Regions from separate parts of the Homo sapiens genome. Here all the other regions are reported to be linked to region 1. Evidence: microRNA targets listed by miRTarBase, many of them from high-throughput screens and not tested one by one. Region 1 holds a microRNA gene; each other region holds the end of a gene's coding sequence.

Region 1 (5,105 bases):
TGGAGGTGGTTTTTACTTAGCTATTGGCTTTTTCCATTCAGCCCATGTGTATTTAGTGCCTAAATATGGGTTCTTTGCCAAATGCCAGGGATTCTGTGTGGAGTCAAAAAGAGTCCTTATCCCTCAGGGGTAATGTGTGTTGTATCTACAGTAGTGCCCTCCAAAAAGGATTTGAAACACCTTACAACATTCATAGAGAACAATAGAATGTAACATTAGTGAGAAAATCGGGACACGAAGAAAGCAGAAGAAAATAAGATGAAGTAAGGGGAAGGTTTGTACATGTAATACATGACATAGCATTGGTATGGTTACCAGAATTTGGCCACAGATCTGACTTTGAGTTTCCTGGTAGTCAAAGCAAAGAGAGAAACAAGACCAATCTCTTGATTCTTGGTGTCCTGAAAATACCAGCAGATCAGTTCCTCGGAAGAACTCTTCCTGATAGATACCTGTGGTGTTCACAAGGAAGCCCAGCATAATGGATGGACAAGCAAGTTGTCTTAACAGGGAGAGCTGATGCTGCATGCCTATCCCACCAATTACCCTGGGTATTTGTGGTCTTAAGAGGTGAGGTCAGCAGCAGCACTTGGTGCCAGAGCTGCTGGCCGCCCCAGCACTGAGACAGGATGCTGAGTCACATCCTGCAGGGCTGCGGTATCCTGGCTTCGCGTGCCCTTCACAATAGGAGGCCTGCACGGGCAGGTCAGCCCCTGCTGTTCCAAACATGTGGTCTCCGAGCAGGAAAATGCTAAAATTAGATCTTACGTGGTCCAGAGCCGTGTATGTGAGAGGCCCTCAAAACCTGGACACACACAGACCAGGAAGACCTGGGAGAGCAGAGCTCTTCATCGTTCTCTTCTGCTCTGGGCACGAAACAGGGCCACTTCTGTTCTGGAAAACACGAAGAGGGCAAACAGTGCTGAGGCAGGGAAGGTCTTGCTTGGTGAGGGTAAAACTATGCAAGAGATGAAAGGGCAAAGTCATGAAATATGCCCATACCAGTGATCAGTAAAATCATCTGAAGCTTTTATTACCTACCGATAAAGAAAAATTACAGGTCGTGTTTTACCAAAATCGAATTAAGTGGAGATTTAAAAAATAACTTTAAAAAATTTGGCTGGGTATGGTGGCTCATGCCTATGATCCCAGCACTTTGGGAGACCGAGGTGGGAGGATCTCTTGAGCCTAGGAGTTCAGTACCAGCCCTGGCAGCATAGTGAGACCCTGTCTCTACAAAAAAATTAAAAAATTAGCTGGGGGTGGCAGCACACACCTGTAGTCCCAGCTACTTGGGTGGTTGAGGTGGAAGGATCGCTTGAGCCTGGGAGGTGGAGGCTGTGCTGCGTGAGCCGTGGTCGTCCCACTGCACTCCAGCCTGGGCGACAGAGTAAGACCCTGTCTCAAAGGAAAAAAAAAAAAATTGGTAACTCGAAAACTTGTAATGCTCCCAACACATACAAATGATTAATACTCAAGGTCATGGATACCCCAGATACTCTGACTTGGTCATTACACAGTTTATGCATGTAACAAATACTTACATGTTTTCCATAAATATGTAAAATACTACGTCGATAAAAAATTCTCGTTAATTTTGAGATAATTTCCAGCTTACATAAGAATTGCAAGTACAGTGAAAAGAACTTTCTTTTTTGAACCATTTGAAAGTAATTTGTCAACCTGCTACTCCATTACCCTTGGAATACAGACCAGGGCATTCTCCCACAGAACCGCAACACAGCCATCCACGCGGGACACTGACTCTGATGCATTCCCACCGTCTAGTCCTCTAACCCCATTCAAGAGTCACCATATGTCCCAGCGTTGTCCTTCATAACAAAAGATCCAATTCAGGACTGCCCATTGCATCTAGTTATCCTGTCTCTTGGCTCTCCTGCAGTCTGGAACCTTCCTCAGTCTTTCTTTGACTCTTGTGGCCTGGATTTTATTTTATTTTTTTATTTTTTGAGTTGGAAACTCACTCTGTCGCCCAAGCTGGAGTGCAGCGGTGATATCTCAGCTCGCTGCAACCTCCACCTCCCGGGTTCAAGCGATTCTTGTGCCTTAGCGCCCCAAGTAGCTGGGATTACGGGCATGCTCCACCACGCTCGGCTAATTTTTGTATTTTTAGTAGAGAATAGGGTGTTGCCATGTTGGCCAGGCTGGTCTCGAACCCCTGACCTCAAGTGATCCGCCCACCTCAGCCTCCCAAAATGCTGGGATTACAGGCATGAGCCACTGCGGTCGACCATGACCTGGACATGTTTGTGCCCAGTACTGTCAGTTTGCAGAGTGTCCCTCAGTGTGAGTGTGTCTGATGTTCTTGTGTGATTCCACCGGGCACGTGTATTTGGCTGGAACATCACCCAAGGGATGCTGCGTCCTCGTTGAATCCCATAAGGTGGCACTTGATTTCCTTTTGTCCCACTATGGTGACATTCACTTTGGTCACTAAGGTGGGTTTTACCAGGCTTTTCCACTGTACAGTTATTCTTTTCCCCTTCATCATTCAGAAGCATTCCTTGGAGAGATACTTTAAAATTATGTTAATATCCTGTCTGCCATCAATGTCCGTTTCAATTCTTTGTATTTTTCTGTTTTATTCAGTGGTTTATAATCTGCTCTTAAATTGTTGACATCCTTGCTCAAATTGTCCTTGTGGACAGTTAGGGCCAGTGGGATCTCATCCAGGCTGGCTTCTGTGTCCCTTTGACATGTCCACATCATTCTTTAAGTGCTTTCTTGCTTTCTGGCAACAGATGCTCCCTACCCACCTGTGGAATCAGTCCTTTATCCAAGGGGCTCTGGTTCCTTTTAGTGGAAAATGAAATTTAGGAGCCAAGCTAGGTCTGCTTATTGCTGTTGGGGTGTTGCTAACCACAGGCCTCTCAATGGGCAGAATTAGGGAACATTTGTATGTACGTGCATACACACACACGTGCATCTATATTTATTTCAATAGGTTGAAAACTATGAGTTCAGACTGGTACCTTCAATTCTGATGCAGCACCTTGGGGTTCATTCTAGTTTTGTCTCTCCATATTCATGACTCCCATTGTCCCTGAAATATTAATAAATATTAACATTATGCATATTATATAAACTTAGGTATTATTTATATTATATAGTATATATTTGTTAATATTGATTATATTAATATTAATATAATCGATTATATTAATATAGTTATAATCGATTATATTAATATAGTTATAATCGATTATATTAATATAGTTATAATCGATTATATTAATATAGTTATAATTGATTATATTAATATAGTTATAATTAATTATATTAATATAGTTATAATTAATTAATATAATATGTATATATGCTATATATCATAAATATATTAATTATAAATATTAATATTAACATTAATGTTTAATATTTCATTCCTTGCCTGTGAGCAGTCTCTGTCTCCCTTGCAGCCCCCTCCCTGCACAGATGCCCTTTGCACCCTGCTTGCCAACAGACACCTCAGCTTGGGATCCCACACCCCCTCCCCAACTCAGAAGCTTGCCCTGCCCTTCCCCGCCAAATGGTTTTTAGGTCTGAATTGTTGGGAGGAGAAGTGGACTTTTTTGAGACTGTTTTCCAGAGGTATCAGTTCAGCTGAAAGCCAGTGCCTAAGAGCAGAGGTTTCAGAGTTACACTCCTGCCTTCCCCTTCCTGCTTCCCGGCTCCTTGGTCTCATGAACTTGGGCAGGTGACTTAACCTCCCTGAGCCTCAGTGTTTGTTTGTTTTGTTTTCTGTTTTTTTGTTTTTTTAAGACGGAGTCTTACTCTGTTGCAGTGCTGTGGCACAATCTCGGCTCACTGCAACCTCCATCTCCTGGGTTCGAGTGATTCTTGTGCCTCCCAATAGCTGGGATTACAGGAGCACGACACCACGCTCGGCTAATTGAGCCTCAGTTCCCGTATGTATAAAACACTGAGAGATGGACACTGGGGAATAAATGAGTTAACATACCTGATGTGCTTAGCATAGCGCTCAACGAAGATGTTATTGGTGTTACATTTATTGATGTCCACTGTTTTCTGGGCACTGAGAGGGATCCTGAGACAGAGAAGTCATAGGCCTAGCTCTCCAGACACTCAAGGTGATGTGGGGAACTTAGCTGCTGTTGTGTTATTTGAAGCACTCAGTTGTCAGGAAGACCTGACCTGACCTCCAGGTGGCTTTAACTCGCACGTGGCATGATGCTGTGAGTCTTATTTGCCAGGTTCAACCTGTGTGTGGGGAGTGCCCAGTGTGCCCAGGGCACAGAGATGACCAGGGTGAGTTACTCCTGGAATACTGACTTCAGAGAAGAGCACAGCTTGGCCAGTGTATCTACCAGCACTTACTTTCAATCTACTGTATGTCAAGCACAGAGGGAGATTTAAAAAGCATGTGCATCCTGGCCCTCACATCCCATTGTGAAGTTAAAATATACTGGCAGGAAGATGGCTTCACCACTAGTTAGTAAATAAGTGGGTCAGGGAACACGATTTGGAAATGAGGGAACTTGGGTTCCTAGGTTCCTATCACTAAGGGTGGTCTTTCCTTCAGTATCCAAGGGGATTGGTTTCAGGACCCCCGCCTTTGCCGAGGATAACAAAATCCATGGATGCTTAAGCACCCGCAGAACCCACTAATTCAAAGAGTTCAGCATCCCTCAAATACTGTATTTTCTGTCTGTAGTTGGTTGAATCCACTGATGAGGAACCCGCGGATACAGAGGACCGACTGTATGTGACCTTGAGCAAGTGACTTAACCCTTAAGCCTCAGTGTCCTCACCTGCACAGTAAGAGGAGGTGCTAGAAGATGTTGAAAGGGAGGAGCTATAGCTCACAGCGAGGGCCACAAGAGAAAGCTTCCTGGAGAAGGCATAAACACTGGAAGACAGGCATGACGTCGGGAGGCAGATGGGAGGAAGGACACCATGAGCCGAGAACCACAGTAGGCTTTATGGGGACAGTGCTATAGCTGGGGATAGAACAGAGAATGCGAAGCATGGAGAACAGGGGGAATAGTGCGAGAGGTAATACAAGAATGGTTTTTTATTCTGAAATACTGTTTTCTAACTATATTCTAAGCCCCTAAGGTCAGGAC
Region 2 (5,105 bases), not on the chromosome of region 1:
GAGCCACCGCGCCCGGCCTCCTCTGGGCTTTGCTGGAGGCACTGCCTGGCTGTGGGCCACTGGCTCTGTGTAAGGGTGTCTGTTCCTTCCACAGGGGCAAGGAAGTCTGCAGACCCCAAGAGACCTTGTGATCATCCAGCTTGGGCTCACAAGAAAACCCACGTGCGGCGAGAAAGAGCCAGGGAAGGAAGCAGCTTTAGGAAGGGCTTCAGGCTGGACACGGATGACGGGCAGCTTCCCAGAGCTGCTCCAGAAAGGACAGACGCCAAGCCCACGGCTTTCCCGTGTCAGGTGCTCACGCAGCGTTGTGGGCGGCGGCCGGGCCGCAGAGAGCGCCGGAAGCAGCGCGCAGTAGAGCTGTCATTCATCTGCGGCACGTGCGGGAAGGCGCTCAGCTGCCACAGCCGGCTGCTCGCTCACCAGACGGTGCACACGGGAACCAAGGCCTTCGAGTGCCCCGAGTGCGGCCAGACCTTCCGGTGGGCTTCAAACCTGCAGCGCCACCAGAAGAACCACACGCGCGAGAAGCCCTTCTGCTGCGAGGCCTGCGGGCAGGCGTTCAGCCTGAAGGACCGCCTGGCTCAGCACCGCAAGGTCCACACCGAGCACAGGCCCTACTCGTGTGGCGACTGTGGGAAAGCCTTCAAGCAGAAGTCCAACCTTCTCAGACACCAGCTGGTGCACACCGGGGAGCGGCCGTTCTACTGCGCGGACTGCGGCAAAGCCTTCCGGACCAAGGAGAACCTCAGCCACCACCAGAGGGTCCACAGCGGGGAGAAGCCCTACACCTGTGCCGAGTGCGGCAAGTCCTTCCGGTGGCCCAAGGGCTTCAGCATCCACCGGAGGCTGCACCTGACGAAGAGGTTCTACGAGTGCGGCCACTGTGGGAAAGGCTTCCGTCACCTGGGGTTCTTCACGCGGCATCAGAGGACTCACAGGCACGGGGAGGTGTAGGGGCGCCCGAAGAGTGGGGTGCTGCGCCTCTGCGGGAGTACTGGGTCCTGAGGGAGAGCTGCAGTGAGAAGTTGCTCTTCAGCCTGGAAAATCAACCTGAATTCAGAGAAGCCTTCTTAGTCCTCAGAGCTCCCCAGTCCCCCGAGAAGTTTACTGGGAAAACTGCCAGGTGGGAGAAGCAGAGCCATGGGTACGCCGGAGATGGCGGGGGCTCTGGAGATGGCGGGGGCTGCGCCCCGGCGCCGGGCATCCTGGGGATGTGCTGAGAGTGTGCGCGACCCCGGAGCCACGTGCCAGGCCGGGCTCAGAGGCGGAGAAGCCTGCCTGGTGCCCACAGCCGTCTGGCTCAGGGACTCCACCCTGGCCCCGAGTCGCCGTCTGCTGGGCCTTTCCTTCCTGGCTCTGCACCCCATGCTGGCTGCCCGGTCTGGCTTCCCTTCTTGTCTCTGTCTTGGGCGAGGCAGCTGTGAGCATTGCACAGAGGCAAAGACCCTCCTGCAGCCTCTGCGCTGGGCCGTAGAAACAAGAGCCTTTGTAATACTGAACCTCATTCAAGGATTAGGAGTGGTGGTTAGGTCAGGGCCACCCCCAGTGCTGCAGGAACGGCCTCCACCCAGCTCTGTTGGTCAGAGCCTGGGTCATGCACCTGGAGTTGGGAGATCAAGTTGGGTCTCAGGGCAGTGAGGTGGCCATATCCACCACATCGCATTTCGTGGGGGAAGAGGTGACCTCTTTGTTTTAAACTTAAGGTGTCTGCTTATCCAGCCAGAAATAAAAATCTGCCAGTGGTGTTCCCAAGGGAAGACCCCCGTGGGAATGGGTCGGGACACTGCCGTGTTTCAGGTTAGCCAATTATTTTTGCTTTTGCCTGTTTTTCTTTAAGAATTGCAGCCAGGCCAGGCGTGGTGGCTCACGCCTGAAATCCCAGCTACTCGGGAGGCTGAGGCAGGAGAATCGTTTGAATCCGGGAGGTGGAGGTTGTGGTGAGCCAAGGTTGCGCCATTGCACTCCAGCCTGGGCAGTAAGAGTGAAACTCCGTCTCAAAAAAAAAATTCCAGCCAACAGATGCATATGTAATGTTGGAATCAGAAACGAGTTTACAAGAAATAGGGGGATGAGGAGAAGGTTGAACACACCGAGAGGAAGCCCTGAGCCAGATCCGGCTGGAGATGCCACCAGACGGCGACGTTTCTGTGGGAAGACGGGCACGCAGAAAGGCCGAGGGGGCTGTGTGTGACCCTGGTAGGAGCAAACCGAGTGCGAAGTCACTTTTGAGACAATCATGGAAATGTGGGCACGGGCCGTGAGTCGGGTGGGTAGGCCGTGAGTCGGGTGGATGGACTGAGTCGGGTGGGTGGGCCGTGAGTCGGGTGGATGGACTGAGTCGGGTGGGTGGGCCGTGAGTCGGGTGGATGGACTGAGTCGGGTGGGTGGGCCGTGAGTCGGGTGGATGGACTGAGTCGGGTGGGTGGGCCGTGAGTCGGGTGGATGGACTGAGTCGGGTGGGTGGGCCGTGAGTCGGGTGGATGGACTGAGTCGGGTGGGTGGGCCGTGAGTCGGGTGGATGGACTGAGTCGGGTGGGTGGGCCGTGAGTCGGGTGGATGGACTGAGTCGTGTGGGTGGCCGTGAGTCGGGTGGGTGGGCTGTGAGTCGGGTGGGTGGCCGTGAGTTGCGTGGTGGGCCGTGAGTTGCGTGGGTGGGCCGTGAGTCGGGTGGGTGGGCCGTGAGTCGGGTGGGGGTGCGGAATTGGCTGCTAGCGGTGATGGTGACACAGGGTTACGGAGGAATCCTCACTCAGATGCATTTGGACGTCTTTGTGGGGAAATGACGTGGCGCCTGGGATGTACTTTACGATTCTAATAAAGAGGAGAAAGACACAACAGTATTGGCTGAATGTTGACAGCTGTTGAAGCCGGGAGGTTGGTGTGCTTAAAAGTTCCCCAAATCTTTTATTTGCAGCATGAGTATGAGTTTCTTCGTGCTCACGGAAGATTGTAGAGAGCAGCTGTCGGTCATGGAGTCACAGGGCTGCCTTACCAGGACACCACCGGCAGCCCCACAGACAACACAGGTTTATTCTCTCCAGCTCTGCAGGCTGGAAGTCCGAGGTAGAGGTGCCAACAGGGTCCGTTTCCGGCGAGCGCCTCCTGGTTCAGAGGCATCCTCATGTCAGGAGGGGCTTTGGTGTCACCTTTTCCTTGTGAGGGCCCGGATCCCATGACCCCTATCACCCCATCGAAGCCAAATCACCTCCCAGAGACCTCCTCATACCATCACGTCGGGCCTAGGGCTTCCACATGGGAATTTCAGAGTGACCATTCAGCCCGTAGCAGAAGCTCCTCTGGGTCTGTCCTGGCCCACAGACCCTGTGTAGGAAAAGCACTTGCCCCTGCGGGGCAGGCCCTGGCAGAGCCCGGTGAGGCAGTGAGGGCCCTGCAGGATAAGTGGAAATCTCCCCAGGGGGGATATGGGGGTGCCTTTCTCTTACAGAGTCCAGGCTGGTAAAAGCGCATGTGTGTTTCGTGTCTGGTTTGTCCCCTGCCCAGCGGGCGCCGTTGGAAGGGCCTTCAGGTGCTTGAGCACAGGTGGGGACGGAGCAGCTGGTGTCTCGGCAGTAGATGCGGCGGATCATAAGGACTTGGGTTTTGAGCGCCCTGCAGGAAGCCACTGGCCGCGTCCAGGGTCACCTGTGCCTGGTCGTTAGTCCCTCACAATGCTGTCACTTTGTGACGCTCTTGTGCAGGATTAAATGTGAACAGCAGAGACGTGGGTGATGCGCTGCCTCGTCAGATGATGGTCAGTTGTCCAAGCGGGCTGCCTTGCTCTTGGTGGCCTCATCATCCAGGGCTCACACACTGGATGGTTGGGCCACAGTCGCGGTACCCCCCGGGCTGCAGGCTTTCCACCCTGCTTAGCAGGGCTCCAGGGCTCCGGGTAGAGCAGGGGGTCCCTCCCTTGGCACTTCCCCAGGGAGGAGCACGACCGTGCTCAGCTGCGGTCAGGCTGCTGCTCTTAGTTGTCTTTCCTTCTAACACTCAGGCTTCCCTTCCTGCCTCCTGGGTCGCTGAAGAAGGTCAGGTCCACAGAAAAGGCCTGGGGAGAGAATGGTGGTGAGGAGCCCATGGGGGTGTGAGGGGCCGGGAGGCTCTGCATCTTGCCCTGTTGGCCTCCTCACCACCCAGGCGGGGGTGGGGTGACAGAAGGGGCTCACAGCAGGTGTCCCGTAAGGAGCATCTTCCTTCCTGGGGCCAGCAGCCGTCACTCCCTGTGAGCCTGTAGAGCCGAGTTTTCTCTGCATTTATCTTGGGCAGAGAATGCATGAAGCTACTTCGCGGCCAGAATGGGTGCACAGCAGGGTCCGTTGACAGCCATGCCTGTGACCTAGCCTTCCACCCCTCTGTCTCCAGGGGACACTTGCCTGGCCTTTGTGTTAGCGCTCAGCACACATGTGTCCAGTGTAAAGTCCACCAAGATTAGCAGGGCATGGTAGCTGCCGCCTGTAATCCCAGCTTCTCAGGAGTCTGAGGCAGGAGAATTGCTTGAACCTGGGAGGCGGAGGTTGTAGTGAGCCAAGATCGTGCCACTGCACTCCAGCCTGGGCGACAGAGTGAGACTCCATCTCAAAAAAAAAAAAGTCCGTCGAGAGAGCAGGTGGCGGATGCAGCTGAGAGCTCCAGGAATGGGAGGGCCACGTGGTAGCCACTGGCAGCCTTGACTGAAAGATGAAGGAGTCCATGGTGCTAGGAGGAGGAGTTGCATCCCAGCAGGCTCAGCTCCTGGAGCTGCCTCTCTGCACTCTGAAGGGAGGCCCAGTGGCTGCAATATTCTTCTTTGGGAAGTACAATGCCAAGTAAATAAAGATATTTGGGGTCATTCTAGTTACAACGTATCATAAACTCTACTCACTGTTGTTCTGGGTGTTCATGGGGTCCGCCGTGCGTACCAGTCTTACAGGTCCTCAAACCCATTGGGACCCTTCAAACGAAGAGTGTGCGTGTGGAGTTGGCAGAACCTGACCCGGGCCAGGGTGGAGGGACAGCTGCGTCACTGAGTGCATGTCCAGCCCTAATAGCTCGCTTCGTTGTGTTTGTATCTGTGACCTCTTGGGAGCTAAATCACAGGCCCACCAAACGAAACGTTTTGGGGAATG
Region 3 (5,089 bases), not on the chromosome of region 1:
GGTGGAGTCGGCCGCCAGAACTCACCCCGAATCCCACGTGCTGGTCCTGATGAAAGGGCTTCCGGGTGGCAACGCCTCTCTGCCCCGGCACCTGGGCATCTCACTTCTGAGCTGCTTCCCGAATGTCCAGATGCTCCCGCTGGACCTGCGGGAGCTGTTCCGGGACACACCCCTGGCCGACTGGTACGCGGCCGTGCAGGGGCGCTGGGAGCCCTACCTGCTGCCCGTGCTCTCCGACGCCTCCAGGATCGCACTCATGTGGAAGTTCGGCGGCATCTACCTGGACACGGACTTCATTGTTCTCAAGAACCTGCGGAACCTGACCAACGTGCTGGGCACCCAGTCCCGCTACGTCCTCAACGGCGCGTTCCTGGCCTTCGAGCGCCGGCACGAGTTCATGGCGCTGTGCATGCGGGACTTCGTGGACCACTACAACGGCTGGATCTGGGGTCACCAGGGCCCGCAGCTGCTCACGCGGGTCTTCAAGAAGTGGTGTTCCATCCGCAGCCTGGCCGAGAGCCGCGCCTGCCGCGGCGTCACCACCCTGCCCCCTGAGGCCTTCTACCCCATCCCCTGGCAGGACTGGAAGAAGTACTTTGAGGACATCAACCCCGAGGAGCTGCCGCGGCTGCTCAGTGCCACCTATGCTGTCCACGTGTGGAACAAGAAGAGCCAGGGCACGCGGTTCGAGGCCACGTCCAGGGCACTGCTGGCCCAGCTGCATGCCCGCTACTGCCCCACGACGCACGAGGCCATGAAAATGTACTTGTGAGGGGCCCGCCAGGTCACCTCCCCAACCTGCTCCTGATGGGGCACTGGGCCGCCCTTCCCGGGGAGGCAAGATTGAGGGCCCGGGAGAGGGAGGCCCGAGCTGCCACCGGGCTTAGGCAGGCTGTTGAGGAGCTGTGGGAGCAGGCCCAGTGGGAGGCTGTGGACACCCCGAGGACAGTGTCCTGTCTCGAGGCAGGGCTGACACATGGTGCCATAGCCAGCGGAGGGCGCTCAGTGAGTGCCCCGGGCCTTCTAGACAACAGGCAGGAAGGATGAACCTCAGGGCACCCCCAGGTGGTGCGGAAAGCCAGGCAGTTGGGACAGAGGTGCCCACGAGGGCAGAGGCCGGTGCTAAGGGGATGGGGAAGAAGGGACAAGATTCCCAGAGAGGAGAGGAGGCTGTTGGTAGGAAAGTGGCAGGGCTGGGGGAGACCCAGCCCCAAGGGTCCGGGGCGGAGGATGCTTTGTTCTTTTCTGGTTTTGGTTCCTCTTTCGCGGGGGGTGGGGGAGGTCAACAGGGACTGAGTGGGGCAGAGGCCCAGAAGTGCCAGCCTGGGGAGCCGTTTGGGGGCAGCCCCTTCTGCCCACCCCATCCTTCTTCCTCTCCAGAGATGCCAGGGGGGCGTGTATGCTCTGCCCCTTCCCTCAGACAGGGGCTGGGTGGGGAGGCTCTTTAGGCTCAGGAGAAGCATTTTAAAGAAACCCCCACCCTGCCGCCCGCATTATAAACACAGGAGAATAATCAATAGAATAAAAGTGACCGACTGTCACTTCGGGCCTTGTGATTGGTGAAGTGTGTTCAGGCTCACAGCCTCCTCCGCTCCATTCTTCTGACGGGGAATCCACTGGGTGGACTGGTGGTGACTTTGCCAAGGTCTCACAACCTGCCCAGCACGGAAGGGCTCGGGACCTGGCTCATAGCCCCAGTGTCCCTGGTGATGGAGAGCCCCCGCAGTGGGGAATGGGGGGAGCCTGTTTTTCCCTCCTCCTTTTTCAAGGCTCACAAACACGGAAGGTTGGGTCCCACCAGCACAACTCCCCCCATGACAAGCCTGAATCTGTTTAACATAAATGGGACCAAATGTGGACACTGAGGAGCCCACCGCCGGAGCAGGGCTGAGCTGCCACCCATCCAGGGAGAGGTCCCAGTGAGGGAGCTGTGAGGGCCTGTGGCTGAAATCCCGGGAGGGACCTGAAGTGCCTTGTGGGCGGCTCCAGGACTGGGCCATAGGAATATCTGCTCCCCGCAGGGCGAGACCCCAGCTGGTTTGCATTGTGGAAGCTGCCTAGGCGTTCCCCACCAGGACTGGGGGTGCTGCCAGGAACACTGGGGCCCAGCAGGCTGCTTTTTGGCAGCTGAAGGGGGAGGCATTCATTGGCCTCCGTTTTCTGCCCACAGACCGTCTTGAGCAGCGTGGGAAGGAGGTGAGCTCCCTGGCTCTTAGGAGTATTCAAGAGCAGGTTATGTGTCGTTTTCTTGGGTTTCTTTCTTTCTTTTTTTGAGACAGAGTCTCGCTCTGTCACCCAAGCTGTAGTACAGTGGCCCCATCTCGGCTCACTGCAACCTCTGTCTCCCGGGTTCAAGCGATTCTGACCTCAGGTAAGCCACTGCACCTGGCCCAGGTTTTGTTTTTGATGAATACAAAGGATTGTTAAGTCAGTGATTTCTCCAGCCACAGCAGCATTTCAAATGAGCAGGTTTTACTTAAATAATACAAATCATATCCTAACTATATATGTATGTGAACAAGTGAGATGACCTTTTAGAGTCCAGCATTGTTTAGTCATTTGACCATCATACAGTGAGTGCCTACTCGGTGCCAGCATGAGGTCAGGAGTTCAAGACCAGCCTGGCCAACATGGTGAAACCCCGTCTCTACTAAAAATACAAAAATTAGCCAGGTGTGGTGGTGGGCACCTGTAATCCCAGCTACTCGGGAGGCTGAGGCAGGAGAATTGTTTGAACCTGGGAAGCAGGGGTTGTGGTGAGCCGAGATCGCACCACTGTGCTCCAGCCTGGCTGACAAAAGCGAGACTCCGTCTCAAAAAAAAAAAAAAAAAAGGCCGGGCACGGTGGCTCATGCCTGTAATCTCAGCACTTCGGGAGGCTGAGGCAGGCAGATCATAAGGTCAGGAGTTCAAGACCAGCCTGGCCAATATGGTGAAACTCCATCTCTACTAAAAATACAAAAACTAGCTGTGCATGACTTGGGGCGCCTATAGTCCCAGCTACTCGGGAGGCAGAGGCAGAATTGCTTGAACCCGGGAGGCGGAGTTTGCAGTGAGCCAAGATCGCACCACTGCGCTCCAGCCTGGGTGACAGACTGAGATTTCATCTCAAAAAAAAAAAAGGAAATTATGAAATTATGTGCATAAATGTCTGCTTAGGGCAGAGAGGTGGGTAGGAAGTGCCAGTTCCCAGGGAGGATGCTGTTGACTCCTTATCCACGGCCATTCTCCTCCCGCTTCTTTCTTGCTAAGGAAACCCCAAGTTTGTTCAACCCTCAGGTAGCTTAGGGCTGTAGAGGAAGTGGGCCCTCCCTAGGCCTGGGGGTGAATCTCTTTTGGTCTAAGCCAGTCCTAGTCATTCCAGTCCCTTCCTAGTAATTTGAGTGGAAATGGGCATATAATGCTATTCTGGCCAATGAGAGGGCAAGTCAGCTGGAAAAGAGGGCTCTGAGAAAATGTTCATAGACAAGAAAGCAACATTTCTGCATTTGGCAAAAGGGTGTAATGCTCCAAGCAATGGCAGCCATCTTGAGGCCGTGAGGGGACAAGTCTGAGATCAAATGTCACCATACTGCATCCTTGAAGACATGAAGACCTCAGCGAGCTGCTGAATTAACCAACCCTGAAAGCGCCCTATCCCGACTCCTTGTCTCGTGTGTTAGATGCTATTTACCATCCTCAAGTGTCCATTCTTCTTGTGGTCCTTAGAAAAAGAACACAGCGAGTTCTAGGCAGACATAGCACCTCCCCTTGGCAGCTGGCTGTGGCCATGTGACTAAGTCCAGGCCAATGGGATGTGAACAGGAGTGATGCGGGCAACTCATGGATGATCTTAAAGACATTTGCTTTGGGCACTCTAACCCGCTTCCCACTGGCTGGAGCATGGCAGCAGCTGGAGTGCTTTGCAGGGCACATTTTGGGGGTGGCAGAGTGGCCCCAGTGGCCTTGGAGCACTCACCTTGGGACTGTAATGTGAGACAGAAACAATCTTCTTTTTTTTTTTTTGAGACAGAGTTTGACTGTTGTTGCCCAGGCTGGAATGCAATGGCGCGATCTCGGCTCACCGCAACCTCCACCTCCCGGGATCAAGCAATTCTCCTGCCTCAGCCTCCCGAGTAGCTGGGATTACAGGTGTGCGTCACTACACCCAGCTAATTTTGTATTTTTAGTAGAGACAGAGTTTCTCCATGTTGGTCAGTCAGGCTGGTCTCAAACTCCCAACCTCAGGTGATCAGCCCGCCTCGGCCTCCCAAAGTTCTGGGATTATAGGCATGAGCCACCGTGCCTGGCCTAATTTTTGTATTTTTAGTAGAGACAGGATTTCACTGTGTTGGCCAGGCTGGTCTCGAACTCCTGACCTCAGGTGATCTGCCCACCTTGGCCTCCCAAAGTGCTGGGATTACAGGCATGAGCCACCGTGCCTGGCCTGGTCTCGTTTCTCTCCTTGGAAGTTGGTGGGGACCGGGGCTGGGTTCTGATTTTTGGCAGTGGACTAAAGCTGGGAGGAATGTCTCACGTCTCACCTCCCCTTGGTTTCCTGCTGCTGCTGCTGCTGCTGCCGCCACACCCACCCTGGAAGGGGATGCTCCTCCTCCCCCAACCCCACCGCAGCACAGATCACACCTGAGTCCAGGGCCTGAAGCCTGGTCCCACCCTGACCCCCAACCTCACAGCAGAATTCCGAGCACGCCTTGCACTGGGCTAGTCCAAGTTAGAACAAGCAGAGATTTAGGAACAAGTGAACCATGAAACCAGACTTCCAGGAACACGGGGGCTCACTCATCCCCGATCTCTGTTGGGCACTCAGAGGACATTACAATTTAATATTTAAACAAGAAGTTGAATATTGATACACCAGCAAGGGGGAATTATTTTCCTTCCCCTAGAGCTGCTGGGAAAACGACTCCCTGCTTGCCTATGCCTGGCCAGCTGGGAAGATTCTTAAATAACCGACTGGACACCGGCCCCAGGCCACGCAGTGCTCCCCCAGTAAAGGATAGGTCCACGTCTTTCTCAGTCCTGGCCAAAAACGTCTGTGAACACACCCACTAGAAACAAGCCAGGAACAAACCGCTGCTCTGAGGATCTG
Region 4 (5,105 bases), not on the chromosome of region 1:
ACATTGTAAGACACACTGTAGTAATTGCTGAGTATCAATGAAGTCTATATAATGGTTGCAGACACGGTAAGTTGAACAAAAAACATACAAATTAGGGATTAATTTACTGGGTTCTTAATAAAATTGCTGAAATTATTATCAATTAGCCCTCAAAAATGTTTTAGGATTATGTAATTTCCATTTTATCTACATAATTCTCTAAGAGTTTTATAAAATGGTTGCTACAACTTGTATTGTGATCACACTGAGACACCAATAAATCTCTGCCAAGAGATCAGTAAGTCTGATATTTGATAAAATTAATCCAGTAGGTTTTAATAACATAGTTATTTCACTTGGAGGAAGCACCACAAAAAGAATGATTCCAGCAATTGTAGTCAGATAGGTGAAGCAAATGGGGGAAGTAAGCAATGTTAATACAAAGTATTAACTGTGGCAGCTCACATAATGCACCAGCTTTCATCAAAGCAGGCTGTTGCATAATTTATCTATGTCCTATTACATTGAGATTTTTATTCCAACAAATATTTAATATACTTTATTTACTATAAGTGACTGAAATGCAAATTCATCTGAACTATAAAGTAACTACCACAAAATAAAAGAGCCTGTAAACATATCCCACATTATTGTGGTATAAACAATTTTTATGAATTCAAAATTACTTTGGCAACCTTACCATCAGAGTATTTTAAATGTTCAAAATACAGATATTAAATAGCACATTGTTATAAACTAATGTTTCCTTCTCTCTTCCTGATATTATAAAACAAGTAATGCTTTATTTACTTATCTTACATGTTCACATTATGAACACAAATTATTTCATTATAAATGGACATATATTCTAAATCTTAGTTCTATGTTTTGAGTGCTTTTAAAAAATTAGTCTTCTAACTGCAGTCTATAATGTTTTCATACTGCATGTGTTATCAGTCTAAATACTTTACAAAAGCTTATGTTCTGTCAGGCAGGCATGACTAGCAAACTGAGTGGGGGTCCTAATTAGAATCACTTCTTAAGCCTGCTTATTTTCTAACTTAAGTGACATCCTTTAAGGTTGTCATAGTTATTAAGTGAAAACATTGGCTGAGTATGCTTCTCTACTGGAAATAGACAAAAATTCACAAGAATTTATGATATTCACATAGGTTATAATTTATTGAAGTTCCAGTATAATATAGGAATACTAGATAGATAATTAGAAAGCAGATCATATAAGACCAGACTGCTAAATCAATAACCATTGCTGAACCCTATTTCCTAATGCCGATAAAAATGGGCTAAGTGAAGACTGGATAACATTTTTCAAGTTCCTTTCAGCTCTCAAGCTGCAGTACTTCTAGTGGAGATAGAAGACAGGAGACTTTTCCTTAAATACTCTAGACCTGATCAGACCCTGCCAGCAGATGATAACCCAGAAGTTAAAATAATCATTTTCCTCTGTGGGCATTAGCCTTTGTGAAATATACATATAAATAAACACACAAAAGTAGCTCTATGTGTGTGTACACATATTTGAAACCTTCCAGCAATTGTCTTAATGTCTTAACATACCTTTGCACAACTGAAGTCAGATTTCATGTAATAAATGTTCCCTTTACTCTTGATTAAAATCATCAACCACTCCCCTCTCACCTCTTTCTCCTAGCAGACTGTAGAAAGGAAATCATTTCTTAGGCTGTTTACTCTGCCTCTATTTTGAATGGATGCATTGGTTTAACAAATACTATCAATTTTCTGGTGAATGTAAAGTCTATTCCAAATACTCCTCATCATATTTACATGGTGCTGACACAAATCAGATGCTCAATAAAACACCTGAAATGAACAGGAAAAAACAATCCTAACTCAGAAAGGGAAGGTTTTCACAAACACTTCTTAGCATTTACAAAATCCACTTGATTAACCACTATTGATTTCCACTTGTCAGAATAAAAGTCAGCATTGCTTTCTTAAGGGTGTCAAGGTGGGAGGTAGGGGTGGCTGGAAGAGTGGGAGCGTAGCTTAGATACAAGACATTTGGCATTTTATCACACAATGTTACACTGATATGGACGGAGTCTAGAACTACATGGTGTATGAAAGCTAGGATTATTTCTAGAAACCTATTTAGATTGATATACAGGTTAAAAAGTTCTTAGATGTAATGGATAAAGTCTTATCTATTAGCATATTCATTTTAAGAAGTTGTAAAGGATAATTTAAATTTAAATAAGATCCCAATAAATATGGTTTTCAAAAAGGATCTTTTCTGCACATAAAAATGACGACAGTGGGTAGTTCCCAGATGAAAAATTCATATATGAGAAATTTAAATGTAATTCTAAACTTCTAATGATTGGCATTTAAAGACAGGCATTGATGATTTAAAAAGGCAGCAGTGCTCATTGCCAAGAAATTATTAAACTCACAAGTATAAACAAGGCCCTAAATTAAAGAACATGCCAACCATGACTTTTGTCTCTTTACATCTATACAATGATATCTTTTGGTCTATGGTTGTCATATTCTGTCCATACAGATAGAACAGACAAATTTTATTTTTAAATTCAGGTGAAAAACTGCCAAAACAGTCATTTAATGTGTAGACCCCGACATAATTTTACTTTCTCAGTTTTTAATTTATCATGTCATATAGCAGCCTAAATTATATTTGTCTGTTTATAGAACAGAATGACCAAATAAGATTATAAGTTACTTCACTATCTTATACTGTTTTGACTGTGAAGTCAGGAAATAGATTAAGAGAATTTCTCTTTGACATAAGTTTATGTTTACTTCTCTCTTTAAATAAACTTAAATATTTTAATATGATAATTTATTTGGTATCTTGGCTATTAATGTTTAGGAGCTTGATTTCCTGAAATTTATTATTATGAGTTTTGAATGTCTGAAATGACATCGTTTAGATTATACCAAAGATTTAAAATGTGTACTCTTCCCCTCATACTAAATGGCTTTCCAAAATATCTGCCATTTGACTCTAAACTTTATCAAGATCTTACAGAAATATTCAGAAACTGCTAGGAAATGAATCTTTTAAAACCCCAATCCACATAAAATAATTGTGTAAAATAACATTTGTATAGGTGAGCAAATTTTCACTTTTATCAAACTGGGCAATGTTAAGGTTCTATCTCTCTGTAGACTTAAAAACAAAAAAACCTGAAGAGGAAAATACGGGAATTCCCACATCCTTAATGGGAATCAGATCCTCCATTAGGCTGGACAGTCAAAAGTCTCCTTATTAACATGCTTATAACTTAATAAGTATATATAAAATGGAATAATTTAATTGTACACAAAAAAACAAGAAAATTCTCAATTTAGTTATTGAGTTATTACACTTAGAAATAAGTCAATAATGTTTCATTCTTCGTTTGAAGAATCCCAATCAATATATCAGTGTGAACAAAGCTTGATATTAACTGAAATGAGTGCTAAAGAATAATATTTTAGTTATGGACATGAATAAATCACAATTATTTGCTCTAACTTTAGCTTAGATTATCAATATGTTTAACATTAATCTGCATGTTAGATGTCTTCCTAAAGTTAGGGATGAAATAAATATGAAATTTGAAGCATAAAAGCATCTTTTAAAGTTGAGCTGCTAAACCGTAACCCCTCAGTCCCTCAAGTAAAGGAATGTGCAGATTTTGAACAATTCCATAGCAGCAGTGTGCACTCAGTAGAACACAAATTATCTTTGCTTCTTATAGCAAATCACGAGTACTGAGTAAGAAACAGAATTTCCTTACCCTTCTTTGACTGTATAACACTCAATATAGCTGTTTTTTAAAATGTGAACTTATTCAAAATGCATAAAAATATACGAATGTACAATATACATATATACCTCCTAGTGGGGTCAAATGAGTGCCTTTTCGTTAGACATACAAGGACGTCTCAAGGCACTTAAGGGGTTAAGACACAATGCATGCATTCCTTTACATCAAGTATGTGAAATCACATGATTTGGAATAAGCCAACCTTATGATAAATATAAGTTACATTATTAAATCCAAGAGAATTTGTAGATTCATATTTATATTTTCTATAAGATGCTGGTAAATGGACAATGTGCAGCATTTCCTGGGAACAGCAAATTCCATCTTTCTTCTTCTGAGCAGCAGGCAGGTCTCTACAGGGGGTGTGCAGGGAAAAATGTGCTGCATCCATAGGCAGTGTATTGGCTAATATTAAGAACGATATTGCTAAAATTTTAAAAATAAAATCTGGTAATCAGTATAGTAAGTACGCAAACCACTGCAAAAGACCAGAGCTGACTCCTGATGTTTACTTCTTTTTGCTTTCATGATACAGGTGTATAACAGAGATGATGAGAATTTTGAGCCTTGTTTGTGGCAATTCTACCAAAAGGGGATTGCATGGCACCACCACAAAATTTCATAAATTACCCTGAACATACTCAGTTATTTACTATTTGTTCGGAGCAAAGCATGAAACAGTCTTCAAATACATGAGTTATAGATTTTGAAAGAGTGACATTTTTTAAAACATAAAGTGCAACAGTGCTGAAGTTTTCAAAGTTTTTTTGAGTTCTTCATTTTTTTTTTGTAAAATGCCATTTCCTGCGAGCAGCATTATGGCACAGTGAACATAAGGGAAAGCAGTTTTCCAACACATATCCCAGATCTTTTTGCTTTCTTATTTATTTGTTGATGTTGTTAAGGGTTTAACAAAGCCTTCTTCATAAACTTTCAAAATAGCTTCACATACAAATCTGTATTGACTCTGAAAAATAAAATATAAAAAACAGAACTGATCAGAAAAGTCAGAAAACCGTCCCCTCTCCCCCCAAAAAAGACAAACATCTCACTTGGCTTGCTTACTTAAAAAATGCAAAACAAAACTGCATAAAGATACCATTTTTCACTAACAGTCTAGACTGGTTAAAAAATACAGTTTGGCAATATATTTTGTTGGCAAAACTCACTTATATGTTGCTGGTAGGGATGTTAAAATACTGCAGCCTCTATAAAGGGGAATTTGGCAGCATATAAGAAAATTAACCTAATTTACCTCTTCACCCAGCAATCCCACTTCTAAGAATCTATCCAAAAAATAAACCAGAAAAA
Region 5 (5,105 bases), not on the chromosome of region 1:
CAGTGTCTGTCAAGTAAGCAACCAAGTTAATAAGTGATTAATACATCATGTTTGCACAAGTAATTATCATTTATTAAGGTGCGGGTGATAGATGACAGATGCAGTGCTAGAACATCATATGTCGGCATAGTTGGATAAATATTTTTCAAACCTTATTCATAGGCTGCTTCAAATCCAGGATTCTCAGGACAGCACAGGACAAGAAAGACAGTGTAATCAAGTCACTATAGACTGCCTAGCCAGTACTCACTTGAAATTAATGGGAGTGAGCAAAGCTAGAACCATGTCATTAGACAAATGTTACGGAGGCTGAATATTTTGTGTCTTGGGCACTAGGTCACTGGGTCTACTTCAGTATTTACAGGGGAATACCAGGGCCCAGATGATGAAAAGTACATTAACTGAGCTTCTACAGCAGGTCAAGGTGCCCAAGCCTTAGCTGTGATCTCTTAACAGTAGGAATAGTCCTGTGTGAGACAATTAAGTTGTGAGGCTGCTGTAGACTATCTTGTTTGCAGTGGGGAAAAGGGAATCGTGTTCTGGGAATACAGCCCCTGGGCCAGTTCCTACCTCCAACAGTAGTTTGTTTTGTTTTGTTTGTTTCTGTTTTTTTGTTGTTGTTATTGAGACAGAGCCTTGCTCTGTCACCCAGGCTGGAGTGCAGTGGTGTGATCCCGGCTCACTGCAGCTTCTGATTCCCGGGTTCAAGCAATTCTCCTGCTTCAGCCTCCCAAGTAGCTGAGATTACAGTCATGTACCACCACGCCCAGCTAATTTTTGTAATTTTTAGTAGAGGTGGGGTTTCACCATGGTGGCCAGGCTGGTCTTGAACTCCTGACCTCAGGTGATCCACCCACCTTGGCCTCCCAAAGTGCTGGGATTACAGGTGTGAGCCACCATGCCCGGCCCCAAAGTAGTTTTTGATGACAGAGTGTCCCCATATCTTCTTTGTTACAAGATACTGCTACGTTTCTCAAAGAAAAAAACTCACTAGGCAAAATGTTCCCACGTTTAAAATATCACCGTTTAAAATGAAGTAAATAGGTTATCGTAGTAGAAACTGGTGGTTCCTCTCCAGCATCCATTCCTCTCTTTGTAACTTTTCCCAATTTTATTCAGGTATCCAACTCTCTCTACTTCTTTGCTTCTGAGTATGCTGACCCCATTTCCACCTCTAGGATGGGCCTTAATTGGCCTGAAACAATTAGGGTAATTCTTTCTTCTATAGTTACTGCTTTAGGGAACTTGTGTTATAGAATGGCATTCCCTGATCACAGGGGCTGGCTTAGAAATTTCATGTGACTTGATTTGGGCTGATACAAGGGAAGGCTGACTGAAAGCTTCTGGAAAATACCAGAGCTCCTAGGAGTGGCCTTTTCTCCTACTGCAGGGGTTGATACGTGAATATGAAACCTGGTTGGCCTTTTGTCTACATGAAACAAGTGGGCCTGAGGATGAAACTGGCACTGCAGAAGATTCAGGGGAAGGAAAGAAAGCTGATTTTTTTTTTTCTTGAGACGGAGTCTGCCTCTGCAGCCCACGCTGGAGCGCAGTTCGCAGTTGTGCGATCTTGGCTCACTGCAACCTCTGCCTCCAGGGTCCCGGTTCACAAGCAATTCTCCTGCCTCAGCCTCCCGAGTAGCTGGGATTACAAGCATCTGCCACTATGCCCAGGTAACTTTTGTATTTTTAGTAGAGACGGGGTTTCACCATGTTGGCCAGGGTGATCTTGAACTCCTGACCTCGTGATCTGCCTGCCTCGGCCTCCCAAAGCGCTGGAATTACAGGCGTAAGCCAACACGCCTGACCAAAAGTTGATCCTTTTTTTTTTTTTTTTTTTTTGAGATGGAGTTTCGCTCCTTTTGCCCAGGCTAGAGTGCAATGGCACGATCTCAGCTCACCGCAACCTCCAACTCCCGGGTTCAAGCGATTCTCCTACCTCAGCCTCCCGAGTAGCTGCAATTACAGGCATGTGCCACCACGCCCAGCTAATTTTTTGTATTTTTAGTAGAGATGGGGTTTCTCCATGTTGGTCAGGCTGGTCTCGAATTCCCGACCTCAGGTGATCCACCTGCCTTGGCCTCCCAAAGTGCTGGGATTACAGGTGTGAGCTACCATGCCCGGCCAGGAAAGTTGATCTTTTATGATATCATTTTATGACATTCTAACAGTGATCCATGTAAAATCCACAAGTAAAACGGCTTTACAGCACACATGGCAATGGTCTTGAGAAAGAGTGGGAAAAGCTCTTAAGACCATGTAAAACAGAAGCACATTTGCAGGCAGTATATGGCACAGTTTAGAAGACAAAGCAGCTGGGCTTAAACCAAGCTCTGCCATTAATGTGCACTGTGATCTCACATAAGCCACCTTTTCTTGCCCTTGATACCTATTTGGTACAAGTTAAGAGTTGTACTAGACGAGTAGCTTCTCTTTCACTGTCTGGGATTTTTTCTTTCTTTTTGAGACGGAGTCTCACTCTTGTCGCCGAGGCTGGAGTGCAGTGGCACCGTGTGGGCTCACTGCAACTTCCGTCTCCTGGGTTCAAGCAATTCTCCTGCCTCAGCCTCCCGAGTAGCTGAGATTACAGGCACCCACCACCATGCCTGGCTAGTTTTTATATTTTTAGTAGAGATGGGGTTTTACTATGTTGGCCGGGCTGGTCTCAAACTCCTAACCTCAGGTGATCCACCCGCCTCGACCTCCCAAAGTGCTGGGATTACAGGCATGAGCCACCACACCCGGCCTGGACTTCTTATATATGAGGTCTTATATATAATCTTACATATAAATATATATATCTATGTATAAAATCTATCTATGTATATCTATCTATCTATAAAGAAAGAGACAGAGACAGATACAGGGTCTCACTTCGTTGCCCAGGCTGGTCTCAAACTCCTGGGCTCAAGTGTTCCTCCTGCCTCAACCTTCCAAAGCGCTGGGATTACAGGCGTGAGCCACCAAGCCCAGCTACCATCAGCAATTTTTATTATTGTTCTTCCTTGTGGATTTTGTTTTTAATGATTTGGTCCATCAATACATCTTTCTCATGTACTTGCTGGACAAAGCGCACAACTGCAGATCAGCTCTCCTGATCAGCAAAGGAAATTAATTTTATTTTCTTTAATAAATTACTATAACTTGACCTGAAGATGTAAAAATATATTATTAGCTTTTGAAACTTTAATATAGATGTAATTTCTGACAAGCTTTTACAAATACTGAAAATAGCTTCCAAGTCCTCTTTCTTCTTTTAAGGATCTTTGGAGATTCATAAAAACTACTGAATTTGCTGATTATTTAAGTTATTAGAGGAAGATGAAAATTCAGTGACTTCTCAAAAATTATAATTCACATTTAATTACAAGTCATGATTTTTCTTTACTTTTTCAACAAAATGGTAAATATAGTCTTTAAAAGATGTAAAAAAAAAATTTTTTTTACATTTAAATAAGCATTTAAAAATCTAAGGTAAGACTACAAAGCAGCATAACAGGTTTTCTGTCACTTGTAAACTGGATTAGAAGGCAATCCCCAGAATTCCAGAACCGTTGTGGAGATATGATTTTTAATTTACAATCTAGAAAAACTGCATTCAACAAGTAGTCCAAGGATTTGGGTTCTAGTTGCCAGCTTGCATGGTACAATCTTGAGTAAGTCTCTCAACTTCTGGATATAGGAAATCAAAGGCCCCCCAACAGAATGAAAGGTGTTAAATCAGGTCATCTTGAATATTCTTCCCAGCTCTGTTATTTTACAACGCCATGAAATCAGAGTAACATGTTCCAGGCTGTTTGGGGTTTGGGATTTTAGAACCTGATGCAATGTATAGCACTTTTTAAATTTCTACTTTTTGGAGTCTTATTCGAATATATACATATATATATGTCCCCCATGTTCTTCTGTGCATGTAGTATATTTTTCTATTTAACAGCCTCTTCACCATTAGCAATAAAAAAGTTTCTCAAGGATGTATTTTTTATTTCTTTTTTTTCGGGGGGAGAGAGTTTCACTCTTGTTGCCCAGGCTGGAGTGCAACGGCGCGATCTCGGCTTACTGCAACCTCCGCCCCCCAGGTTCAAGTGATTCTCCTGCCTCAGCCTCCTGAGTAACTGGGATTACAGGCATGCGCCATCACATCTGGCTAATTTTGTATTTTTCGTAGAGATGGGGTTTCACCATGTTGGTCAGGCTGGTCTCGAACTCCTGACCTCAGGTGATCCGCCCACCACGGCCTCCCAAAGTGCTGGGATTACAGGCATGAGCCACTGCGCCCGGCCTCATTTCTTGCTTTTATGTTTTTTTGGCTTCCTTTTTTAATTTCTCCAAGATCTCTTCTGGAGTTGTAGAAGCCAAAAGCTTCACCACCTTTTCACGAGATTTACCACCCTGGACCAAAAGAGAAAAAGCATACTTTACTGTTTAGCACATTCTAATGCTATTAGAGATAGCAGACCTCCGTTGTATAATGGGCTCTCCTGATGGCTTTCTCTTGGTTACTTCTGGTCTAACCAAAGACTATCTCTTAGATTCTTCCTTACTACCATTTGTTACTAAACATTTGTTAGTACTAACAACTCTCCAGGGTTTTTACCTTCATACATCAATTTCTATAATAAAAGCTGGACATTAAAATCTCAAAAATGGGCCAGGCGCGGTGGCTCACGCCTGTAATCCCAGCACTTTAGGAGGCCAAGGTGGGTAGATCACGAGGTCAGGAGTTCAAGACCAGCCTGACCAACATGGTGAAACCCCGTCTGTACTAAAAATACAAAAAATTAGCCGGGCATGGTGGCATGTGCCTGTAATCCCAGCTACTCAGGAGACTGAGGCAGGAAAATCGCTGGAACCCAGGAGGCAGAGGCTGCAGTGAGCTGAGATCGCGCCACTGCACTCCAGCCTGGGCAACAGAGCAAGACTCCATCTCAAAAAAAAAAAAAATCTAAAAAATGATATTCTAGTCTCAAGCAATTAAGTTAAAAATGAAAATCATCTTTAAAATACCAAAATAAATATTGCAATTTTATATAAACTTTGTAGTAAAATAATTATAAATATAAACAAATTGCTATTCTCTATGTTGTTAAACATTTCTGAAAATT

What was found. The annotated mature microRNA hsa-miR-619-5p reads GCUGGGAUUACAGGCAUGAGCC and lies in region 1 at 2,219-2,240, shown strand. An mRNA with a match to its seed (bases 2 to 7 or 8) in the 3' UTR can be bound and repressed. Matches are read on the target gene's strand: a 7mer-m8 pairs with bases 2 to 8, a 7mer-A1 pairs with bases 2 to 7 and ends in A, and an 8mer does both.
Region 2: miRTarBase lists ZNF707 as a target of hsa-miR-619-5p. The part of its 3' UTR that is shown has no 7-base or 8-base seed match.
Region 3: the mRNA of A4GALT is a reported target of hsa-miR-619-5p. Seed matches in the 3' UTR shown: 7mer-A1 at 1,152-1,158.
Region 4: miRTarBase lists PTPN4 as a target of hsa-miR-619-5p. The part of its 3' UTR that is shown has no 7-base or 8-base seed match.
Region 5: miRTarBase lists C15orf40 as a target of hsa-miR-619-5p. Seed matches in the 3' UTR shown: 7mer-m8 at 4,250-4,256, 7mer-m8 at 4,116-4,122, 7mer-m8 at 2,942-2,948, 7mer-m8 at 2,714-2,720, 8mer at 2,442-2,449, 7mer-m8 at 2,093-2,099 and 3 more.

The regions. Positions count from the first base shown.
Region 1 is chr12:108,834,097-108,839,201 of GRCh38, reverse strand. MIR619 (microRNA 619) reads left to right here and starts at 2,196; the gene lies at 2,196-2,294. The region is part of intron 2 of SSH1 (slingshot protein phosphatase 1); the gene reads left to right. RefSeq lists enhancers at 1-147, 707-836, 141-1,340.
Region 2 is chr8:143,693,577-143,698,681 of GRCh38, forward strand. ZNF707 (zinc finger protein 707) reads left to right here. Exons shown (of 6, transcript NM_001100598.2): 6 at 95-1,809. The coding sequence ends at 954. It overlaps LINC02878 (long intergenic non-protein coding RNA 2878), which reads left to right and starts at 3,539. Exons shown (of 2, transcript NR_015445.1): 1 at 3,539-4,065; 2 at 4,363-4,837.
Region 3 is chr22:42,688,573-42,693,661 of GRCh38, reverse strand. It overlaps A4GALT (alpha 1,4-galactosyltransferase (P1PK blood group)), which reads left to right. Exons shown (of 3, transcript NM_017436.7): 3 at 1-1,541. The coding sequence ends at 772. Among named protein-coding and RNA genes, the nearest start is that of A4GALT, 30 kb to the left of the region's middle. RefSeq lists enhancers at 84-605, 4,918-5,089.
Region 4 is chr2:119,976,640-119,981,744 of GRCh38, reverse strand. PTPN4 (protein tyrosine phosphatase non-receptor type 4) reads right to left here. Exons shown (of 27, transcript NM_002830.4): 27 at 1-4,761. The coding sequence ends at 4,675. Among named protein-coding and RNA genes, the nearest start is that of EPB41L5, 34 kb to the left of the region's middle.
Region 5 is chr15:83,001,301-83,006,405 of GRCh38, forward strand. It overlaps C15orf40 (chromosome 15 open reading frame 40), which reads right to left. Exons shown (of 4, transcript NM_144597.3): 4 at 1-4,392. The coding sequence ends at 4,297. Among named protein-coding and RNA genes, the nearest start is that of C15orf40, 7.8 kb to the right of the region's middle.